2 separate regions of the Homo sapiens genome follow, and region 2 is linked to region 1. The links come from fine-mapping of genetic effects on gene expression. A gene starts in region 1. The other region holds a variant in brackets. All regions are shown on one strand. Distances are between the middles of the regions.

The links. PIP is the estimated chance that this variant, and not a neighbour inherited with it, causes the effect. A credible set is the group of variants that fine-mapping cannot tell apart.
Region 2: its variant is the best candidate, but not a certain one, in a credible set for the expression of THEM6 in whole blood (INTERVAL, PIP 0.88).

The regions. Positions count from the first base shown.
Region 1 is chr8:142,725,094-142,729,308 of GRCh38, forward strand. THEM6 (thioesterase superfamily member 6) reads left to right here and starts at 2,130. Exons shown (of 2, transcript NM_016647.3): 1 at 2,130-2,766. The coding sequence starts at 2,254. It overlaps LNCOC1 (lncRNA associated with ovarian cancer 1), which reads right to left and starts at 1,880. Exons shown (of 3, transcript NR_038925.1): 1 at 1,629-1,880. RefSeq lists an enhancer at 1,636-1,855 and silencers at 1,886-2,325, 2,626-2,875.
Region 2 is chr8:142,760,660-142,765,165 of GRCh38, forward strand. LYNX1-SLURP2 (LYNX1-SLURP2 readthrough) reads right to left here. Exons shown (of 5, transcript NM_023946.5): 4 at 4,377-4,481; 5 at 3,679-4,082. The coding sequence ends at 3,946. It overlaps SLURP2 (secreted LY6/PLAUR domain containing 2), which reads right to left. Exons shown (of 3, transcript NM_177458.3): 2 at 4,377-4,481; 3 at 3,679-4,082. The coding sequence ends at 3,946. SLURP2-AS1 (SLURP2 antisense RNA 1) reads left to right here and starts at 2,406. Exons shown (of 2, transcript XR_007061134.1): 1 at 2,406-2,836. The variant G/A (reference allele first, on the strand shown) is at 1,953.

The sequences.
Region 1 (4,215 bases):
TCTATTAATGCTAAGTCTTTAAAAAATAACTTTTTTTTTTTTTTTTTTTTTGGAGAAGTGAGGTCTCTCTATGTTGCCCAAGCTGGTATCTAACTCCTGGGCTCAAATGGTCCTCAGCCTCCCCATGGCAAGGATTATAGAAATGGCCCACCATGCCCGGTCAACTTAACTCTTTCAATCAATTGCCAATCAGAAAATCTTTGAATCTGCCTATGACCTAGAAGTCCCTCTGTCACTTCCAGTTGTCCCCACCTTTCTGGACCAAACCAATGTCCATCCTGCAAGTATTCATTGATGTCTTATGTCTCCCTAAAATTTGTAAAACCCAGTTGCAGGCTGACCACTCTGGGTACAAGTTCTCAGGATCTTCTGAGGCCGTGTGACAGGCCACAGTCACTTAGATTTGGCTCAGAATAAATCTCTTCAAACATTGCACAGTGTTTCACTCTTTTTGTTGGCAAGGGGACAACATGGGTGACCAGGAGGCTGCATTCTTTGAGCAATGGCCAACAGGCTCAACGGCTATGTCCTCAGTCCCTTCAGCCCAAAAGGCCACCCCTCCCTGGGGCAGAGGGCTCAGAGCCCAGCTACGACAAGGTGACACTTCAGGGACAAGTGTGAGCAATGCTAGGGTGTTGGGAATAGGCCCCCAAAATCTGGCCATAAACAAAATCTCTGCAGCACTGTAACATGTTCATGATGGCCATGATGCCCACGCTGGGAGGTTGTGGGTTTACCGGAATAAGGGCAAGGAACACCTGGCCCACCCAGGGCAGAAAACCGCTTAAAGGCGTTCTTAAACCACAAACAATAGCATGAGCCATCTGTGACTTAAGGACATGCCCCTGCTGCAGATAACTAGCCAAACCCACCCCTTTATTTTGGCCCATCCCTTTGTTTCCCTAAGGGGTACTTTTAATCTATAATCTGTAGAAACTGTGCTTATCACTGGCTTGCTGTGAATAAACACGTGGGTAAATCTCTGTTGGAGGCTCTCAGCTCTGAAGGCTGTGAGACGCCTGATTTCCCACTCCACACCTCTATATTTCTGTGTGTATCTTTAATTCCTCTAGCACCGCTGGGTTAGGGTCTCCAGGACCGAGCTGGTCTCGGCACTGGGGGAGCTGCCCTGATAGGTAGTGAGCTCCCTGTCCCTGGGGCTATCAAGCAGAGCCAGGTGCCGCCCCAGGGAGCTCCTTCTTTGAGGGCGGTCCAGAACCCTGGAACCCCAGCCCAGGCCCAGGCCTGAATCCGGAGCTTGTTTAACCCAGCAATTCCGGGACCCCATCCCCGGTCGCTGGCATCCGCTGTCATTCGAGAGCCTGGGGCTGACGGGGAGAGCTGGTCCGGCCTTCTCTGGGCCGCCTTTCCTCCCCAGCCTCGTCAGGAAGGGGCACAGGACAGCCGAGCTGTGCGACAGCCCGCTGGGCCTGCGCCCCAGGGCCTCCGGCGACACTTGGAGTCCGCAGCTGAGTCACTGACTCTCACCCGGGCTCCCCCGCTTCCGCCCGGCCGTGATTTGCTCCGGTTTCAAAAGGGAGGAAGGGCGGGAATGCTCGGGAAGAGCCTGGGGTTGGCAGGACCTTTAGGGGGTGGAATGAATGTCGTGAGGGCGAGTAAGGAGGTACCGGCTGGGGCTGAAAATGCGCACGGGGACCATGAGCGTGATTCGCCCTGAGCCGCTGCGAACGCCCTGCGAGCTGGGGTGGCCCTGGAGGTCCTGGAGCAGAAGCTAGGTTCCCGCAGAGTCCGCTGCAGCGCCGCTGGCGATCGGGCTGGGTCCCATTTTCCACGAAAAGTCCCGCGGCTTCGGCCGCGGAGGTGCTGGAGCCTTTGCGCTCAGACGAAGGGCCGAACGGCCAGGGCCAGGCCGCGTCTTCAGAGCCTGGCGAGGGTCTCGCGCTGCTGGGAAGGCGGAGACGCCGGGGCGCGCGTGCACCCTCGCGCCTGCAGCGCCGCGCACGGCCGCCAGGTGCCGCTGTGGCGCTCAGCGCGCCGCCCGCCCCGCCCCAGGGAACGCGAAAGTGGCGCGGGCCTGGACGGCGGGACGGACCACGTAGGGCGCTGAGAAGGTCGCGCCACGGTGGGCGGGGCTCCGGGCCCCTCCCCCTCGGCCGCCCTCGCGCTGTGGTTCGCTCCGGGCGCGCTGCGCTCGTGAGTTCCCAGGAGGCCTGGCGGGCACCGTAACCAGCGCCGCGGACACCGGCACCGGCGCCACGGACTCCGCAGGACCCCGCGCCCGCCGCCGCCGCTATGCTGGGGCTGCTGGTGGCGTTGCTGGCCCTGGGGCTCGCTGTCTTTGCGCTGCTGGACGTCTGGTACCTGGTGCGCCTTCCGTGCGCCGTGCTGCGCGCGCGCCTGCTGCAGCCGCGCGTCCGTGACCTGCTAGCTGAGCAGCGCTTCCCGGGCCGCGTGCTGCCCTCGGACTTGGACCTGCTGCTGCACATGAACAACGCGCGCTACCTGCGCGAGGCCGACTTTGCGCGCGTCGCGCACCTGACCCGCTGCGGGGTGCTCGGGGCGCTGAGGGAGTTGCGGGCGCACACGGTGCTGGCGGCCTCGTGCGCGCGCCACCGCCGCTCGCTGCGCCTGCTGGAGCCCTTCGAGGTGCGCACCCGCCTGCTGGGCTGGGACGACCGCGCGTTCTACCTGGAGGCGCGCTTTGTCAGCCTGCGGGACGGCTTCGTGTGCGCGCTGCTGCGCTTCCGGCAGCACCTGCTGGGCACCTCACCCGAGCGCGTCGTGCAGCACCTGTGCCAGCGCAGGGTGAGCGGCCCCCGCCCCTGGCCCCGGAGCACGGCCTTTGTGGGACCTCCGGGGGCTCCTCCTAGTCCCTGGCCCCCTCCCCTAGGGAAGGCCCGCTGCCTGCACCTCTTTCGGATACTGCTGGAGTCCTGCCTCTTACCGCTCCCGCCCCTCCCTCTCTACCGGGGGCATTCCTCACTGATGCCTTTGTTCGTGGGGGTTCCTAGGGTCCCCGAATCAACTCTTCATAGTCGGGCTTAGCGTGCTTCCCTCCTGCCATTTCTTAACCTGGCCCCTCACGGTTTCGTGTTCACCCCTCTCCTCTCTCCTGGTACTCTGTTCTGTGGCTGGAGTGTTGACCTCTCTGGTCCTTGGTCCTGAATATAGGTTGGAGAGGTGATCAGTTAGAAGAGGTTCCTAGGAGTTCCCGAGGACCTGAGCCCCCCTTTCACACAGCTTAGAGCTGAAGGGCTGGGTTCTGGTCACCTGGGTTTGGGGTTGAGGTATTGAGCCGAGTAGCTGAAAGCCTTCTGGCCTTTCTGCAGTTGGAGAGAGGAGGGCCATGCACCTCCCAGGGCTCGCTCCTCCCAGCAGGGCAGAACCGCCCCTGCAGCATGGCACCTGGGGCCCTGGGGACGGCCACCAGGCCGATGTGGCCAGACCAGTTGCCAGAAAAGTTGCCTGGAGCGTCCGTGCAGGAAGCCAGGGCCTGTGCACCCCTGGTGTGCCCTTAGGGCACTGCCCTCTCCGGTCTCGGACAGGTGCCTCCCGAGCAGACGAGGGTCAACGTCTCATCTCAGTCCTGATGTTACAGGAAAGGGATTCAGATCCAGACCTCAAGGGAGGGTTCTTGGATCTTGTGTAAGAAAGAACTCAGGGCGAGTCTGCAGCGCACAGTGAAAGCAAGTTTATTAAGGTAAAGCGGTGAAAGAATAGCTGGTCCGTAGACCCAGTAGCATGTTCCTGTAAGAGGAGGAACGCGTCCACCCTAGGTGCAATGCTTGTATATATGGGGAGATGTGATCTGCTACAAGGGTTTGTGATAAAGGAGTAATTTTCTTAATTACTATATTTTGCAAGAATCAATATTACTATTTTCTTTTTTTTTTTTTTTTTTTTCAGACGGATTCTCACTCTGTCGCCCAGGCTGGAGTGCAGTGGCGTGATCTCGGCTCACTGCAACCTCCGCCTTCCGGGTTCACGCCATTCTCCTGCTTCAGCCTCCCCACTAGCTGGGACTACGGCGCCAGCCACCACGCCCGGCTAATTTTTTGTATTTTTAGTAGAGACGGGGTTTCAAAATCAGGAATGCCTTTGTTCTCCAGACATCGGGATATCTGGACACTCCCAAGTCTGGGTCTCTTTAGTAAACATTATTAATTTGTTCCCTTAACTGTGTTTGAAACGCTTGTTCCCCGGTGCCGTAAAGAAATAGCACGTGAACATAAATTTAATTTCCTCAGCAAGGCC
Region 2 (4,506 bases), 36 kb after region 1:
CTCACGCACCATACAATCCACCCGTTTACAGTGGGTAATTCAGTGGTTTGTCACGCAGCATACAATCCACCCGTTTACAGTGGGTAATTCAGTGGTTTCTCACGCACCATACAATCCACCCGTTTACAGTGGCTAATTCAGTGGTTTCTCACGCACCATACAATCCACCCGTTTACAGTGGGTAATTCAGTGGTTTGTCATGCAGCATACAATCCACCCGTTTACAGTGGGTAATTCAGTGGTTTCTCACGCACCATACAATCCACCCGTTTACAGTGGGTAATTCAGTGGTTTCTCACGCACCATACAATCCACCCGTTTACAGTGGCTAATTCAGTGGTTTCTCACGCACCATACAATCCACCCGTTTACAGTGGGTAATTCAGTGGTTTGTCATGCAGCATACAATCCACCCGTTTACAGTGGGTAATTCAGTGGTTTCTCACGCACCATACAATCCACCCGTTTACAGTGGGTAATTCAGTGGTTTCTCACGCACCATACAATCCACCCGTTTACAGTGGCTAATTCAGTGGTTTCTCACGCACCATACAATCCACCCGTTTACAGTGGCTAATTCAGTGGTTTCTCACACAGCATACAATCCACCCATTTACAGTGGGTAATTCAGTGGTTTCTCACGCACCATACAATCCACCCGTTTACAGTGGGTAACTCAGTGGTTTTTACCATATTCGCAGTTTTAGCCCATTTTCATCATCTTGAAAAGAAACCTTGAACGCTTCAGCGCTATCTTTGCTCCATTCACTGTGAGAACGTGAAGTGGTTATTTTGTGAGATTGTGAGATGGATATTTTGGTTTTCTGACATTGCTTATTTTGTGAGATTGTGAGATGGATATTTTGGTTTCCTGACATACAGCTCTTAAAACCCTTGGAATCTCTGGAGTGGCAAGGGCATCTTTTGTATGCTAATGAGAGGACTGGTGACTGGGGGTCCCCAGGGAGCTTCAGGATGAGGGACAACGGGATTAGAGAGCTGGGACTTCAGCCCCACCCCCAGCCTTCAGGGGAGGGGAGGGGCTGCAGGTTGGGTTGGTCAGTGGCCAGTAGTTTAATCCATCATGCCTACGTAATGAAGCCTCTGTAAATTTCCCAAAAGGACAGGGCTCAGGGAGCCTCCGAGAGCAGAACATGCGCAGGTGTCTGGGGGTGGCACTGGGAGGGCCTGGAAGCTCTGAGCCCCTCCCTGTGCCTGCCCCACGCGTCTCCCCCACCTGCTGTGCGTCCACACCTTCGTCACAGCCTGTGTCATAAATGGGTAAACGCGGCTCAGTGTGTCCCTGAGTTCTATGAGCCGCTCCAGCAAGTCATCAAACCCGAGGAGGGGGTTGTGGGAACCCTGATTCATGGCAGGTTGGTCAGAAGCACGGGCCACACCTGGGGCTTGCGACTGGCATTGGAAGTGGGGCTCACTGCGTGGCACTGAGCCCTCCACCTGCGGGATCTGACGTGACCGCCACAGGAATGGTGTCGGAATTGAATTGAGGACATCCAGTTGGTGTCCACGGCAGTGTGGCTTGGTTGCTGGTGGAGAGAAATACACACACTTTGGTGATGGGGTGAAGTACTGTATTGTGTGAGAGCAGGAAAAGTACTCTGGCTTTTCCCTATTTCTTTTTGTTTGTTTGTTTGTTTGCTTTTTAAGATGGAGTCTCGCTCCTTTGCCCAGGCTGGAGTGCAGTGGCACCATCTTAGCTCACTGCAACCTCCGCCTCCCTGGTTCAAGTGATTCTCGTGCCTCAGCCTCCCAAGTGGCTGGGATTACGGGCATGCGCCACCACACCTGGCTAATTTTTGTATTTTTAGTAGAAACGGAGTCTCACCATGTTGCTCAGGCTGGTCTCAAACTCCTGACCTCAGGTGATCCACCCTCCTCGGCCTCCCAGTGTGCTGGGAATACAGGCGTGAGCCGCCACACCCGGCCTTTCC[G/A]TATTTCTTAATAATCCCTGCCACCACCTAGCAACCACTCATCTCCTTTTCCTCCCTATAGAGCTCCCTATTCCGGCCACTTCTGAGAAATAGAACTGTACACTGCTTGGCCTGTTGTGCGCGGCTTCTGTCTCACTTAGCATCGTGTTTTCAAGCACCCCCCGCGTGTTTTCAAGGCTCTCCCGTGTTTTGGCGTGGGTCGGGGCTTCATTCCTTTATGTGGCTGAATAACATTCTGTGGTGTGGGTCTGTCATCTCTGTGATCCCTCCATCAGTTGATGGGCATTTGGGTTTTTCCCGCCTTTTGTCTGCTATGAATAATGCCACTGTGAATGTTTGTGCACAGGCTTTTGTGTGGACTCGTGTTTACTCTTCTTGGGCCATGCCTGGGCGTGGAATTTGGCCTGGGGGTGGAATTTGGACCAGGTGGGGGGGCGGGGGTGGAATTGCTGTGTTTACAGCAACTCTGTCCAATCCTTTCAGGAACGTGTCTTGCTTTTCTATTCTGAATTATCTAGCATTAAAAAACCTCCTCTTTTTACATCGAAACCTCTCATTCAGTTGGCATGCCTTTGGCTGTAGCGAGAGAGGTGATGATCCAGCCTTATCCTGTTCTCTCCACAGTGCTCCACGGCGGCTGCCAGTGAGCCCTGTCCCTCTCCTGCAGATCTGAGAAGTGCTCCATTGTCACCTCAATTCTTGAGCTTATCTGGGTATCTCCAGCGCACCCTGTTTATGTCTTCTTCTGTGCCCGGGGCTACTCTGAAAGTTGTCCTGCACCTGAGTGTCCGGCGGCCCTGCCTGAGACACCCCCTCCTTGTGGAGCAGCTTAACAATTGCATCAGCTTTCTCCTGTGCTGATTCTTCATGAGAACGTTGCCAAGGTGAGAACAAGAAAGGCCAAGGAAAGGGCCTGGCGGTGTGTTTCTTGGCAGGTGCTAACTCAGTCGGGGGGATCTGGGTGCTGCAGGTATTGACTCACCTCGGCCTCTCCGAGGGGAGTGCCAGGCTTATGTGGGGGTCTCATTCAACCTTGCAGCCCGAAGCTCGGCCATGACGCAATGTTGCCTAGGGAGTGATCAACTTCCACAAACATCACTTACCTAGTTTCCATGTCCACCCTGAGATGGGTGGCCACAGCTGCCCATCACCTCAGTCTGATTCATCCCACTCCCAGCATCTCTCCCCAGCACCCTGCCTTGTGTGCTGGGTACCCAGTGGCCCAGAGGAGCTGGAGGTGGTGTTCCCTGCCAGAACTGGGGGTTTCCTAGAGAGGGGCAGGCCGGGCCACTGGCCCAGGGGCATGTATGAGGGCGAGGGTGAGGATGCCGCCTCACTCTTCTCCCTATTCCAGAAGGCCTGCTGCAGCCGTCTTTGCCAATGGCACCTCCTCCCTTCCTCCACCCCGCACAGCCTCCATGTCTCAGCCGGGGTGTCCTTTTTCTGAGGTTTCCCAACTCACGCTCTGGGGTGGAGGGCTCCTCATGTGCCCCAGCCCCAACTCCCACTCTAGCTGCTTCAGGAGAAGCAGCTGCCCGGGGTGCCTGGGCCCCCGTGCCCTTCAGGCCTGACAGTTGGCTGGAGGCGGGAGGGCCTGTTCCGTGATAAGGGCAAGTGGGGGTGGGGTAGTAGGGTTTAGCCTGGGGTGAGGGAGCGAGGCACCCCCAAATCTACTCCACTCTACTCCCAAGCCCAGGATGGCAGGACTCCACTCTCACTGCATAGCTTGTACCACACGATCCAATCACATTTTATTGTGGGGAGGTCGGGACCTGAAGGGGCGGCAGGCACGATGGGCCCCAGGCTTGGACGGCAGCAGATTGAGGCAAGACTCCACGCAGGACTTCCCTAGGACAAGCGGTGCTGGACGGTGGCTGCAGAGGCCGGGAGAGGTGGGCTGGCCAGTCTCGAGGGAGGGGCAGCTGTGAGCCCTGGCGCCAGGCTGTGGGGGCTGTGGGGGCTGAGCGTCCGGGGGCCTGGAGGAGGGCAGCCGTCAGTCATGGTTGCAGAGGCTGGTCTGGCAGCAAGCGATGGATACGTAGGGGCCCAGGCCCAGGCTGGGGATATCGGGGCAGCCTATGTGGCACATCTTGGTGACCAGAGGCAAATCCTCGGTGTTGCTGAGGACCCCTGAGTGGGCAGGAGAGAAACCATGGAGCTCCCTGAGGCTCTGGTTTGCCCAGACCCTGCTGCCCCATCTGCCACTGAGCTGAGGGTCAGACGCCCCAGGTACATGAAGCATACGGGCCCTCCTGGGGCAGACGTGGCCCTTTGCTCATACCCTTCCCTGGGCATCACTGGCGGACACTCCCCACTATGCTTCTGACTTACTGGGTGCCTGGATCTGGCTCTGTCACCCTCTGAGCCCACATCTTCCCACCTGGGCAAGAAGGACGTGGCCAGCCCACCACTGTTCCCACTTACGGGTGGCAGTGGTGACACAGTGGGTGGAGTCCCTCAGGCATCTGGATCCATGGGAGCACCCTCCGAAGCCCGTGCACTGGTGACACCATATGGCTTCGGCTGCAGCTGCGGACATGGGGACAGACAGGAC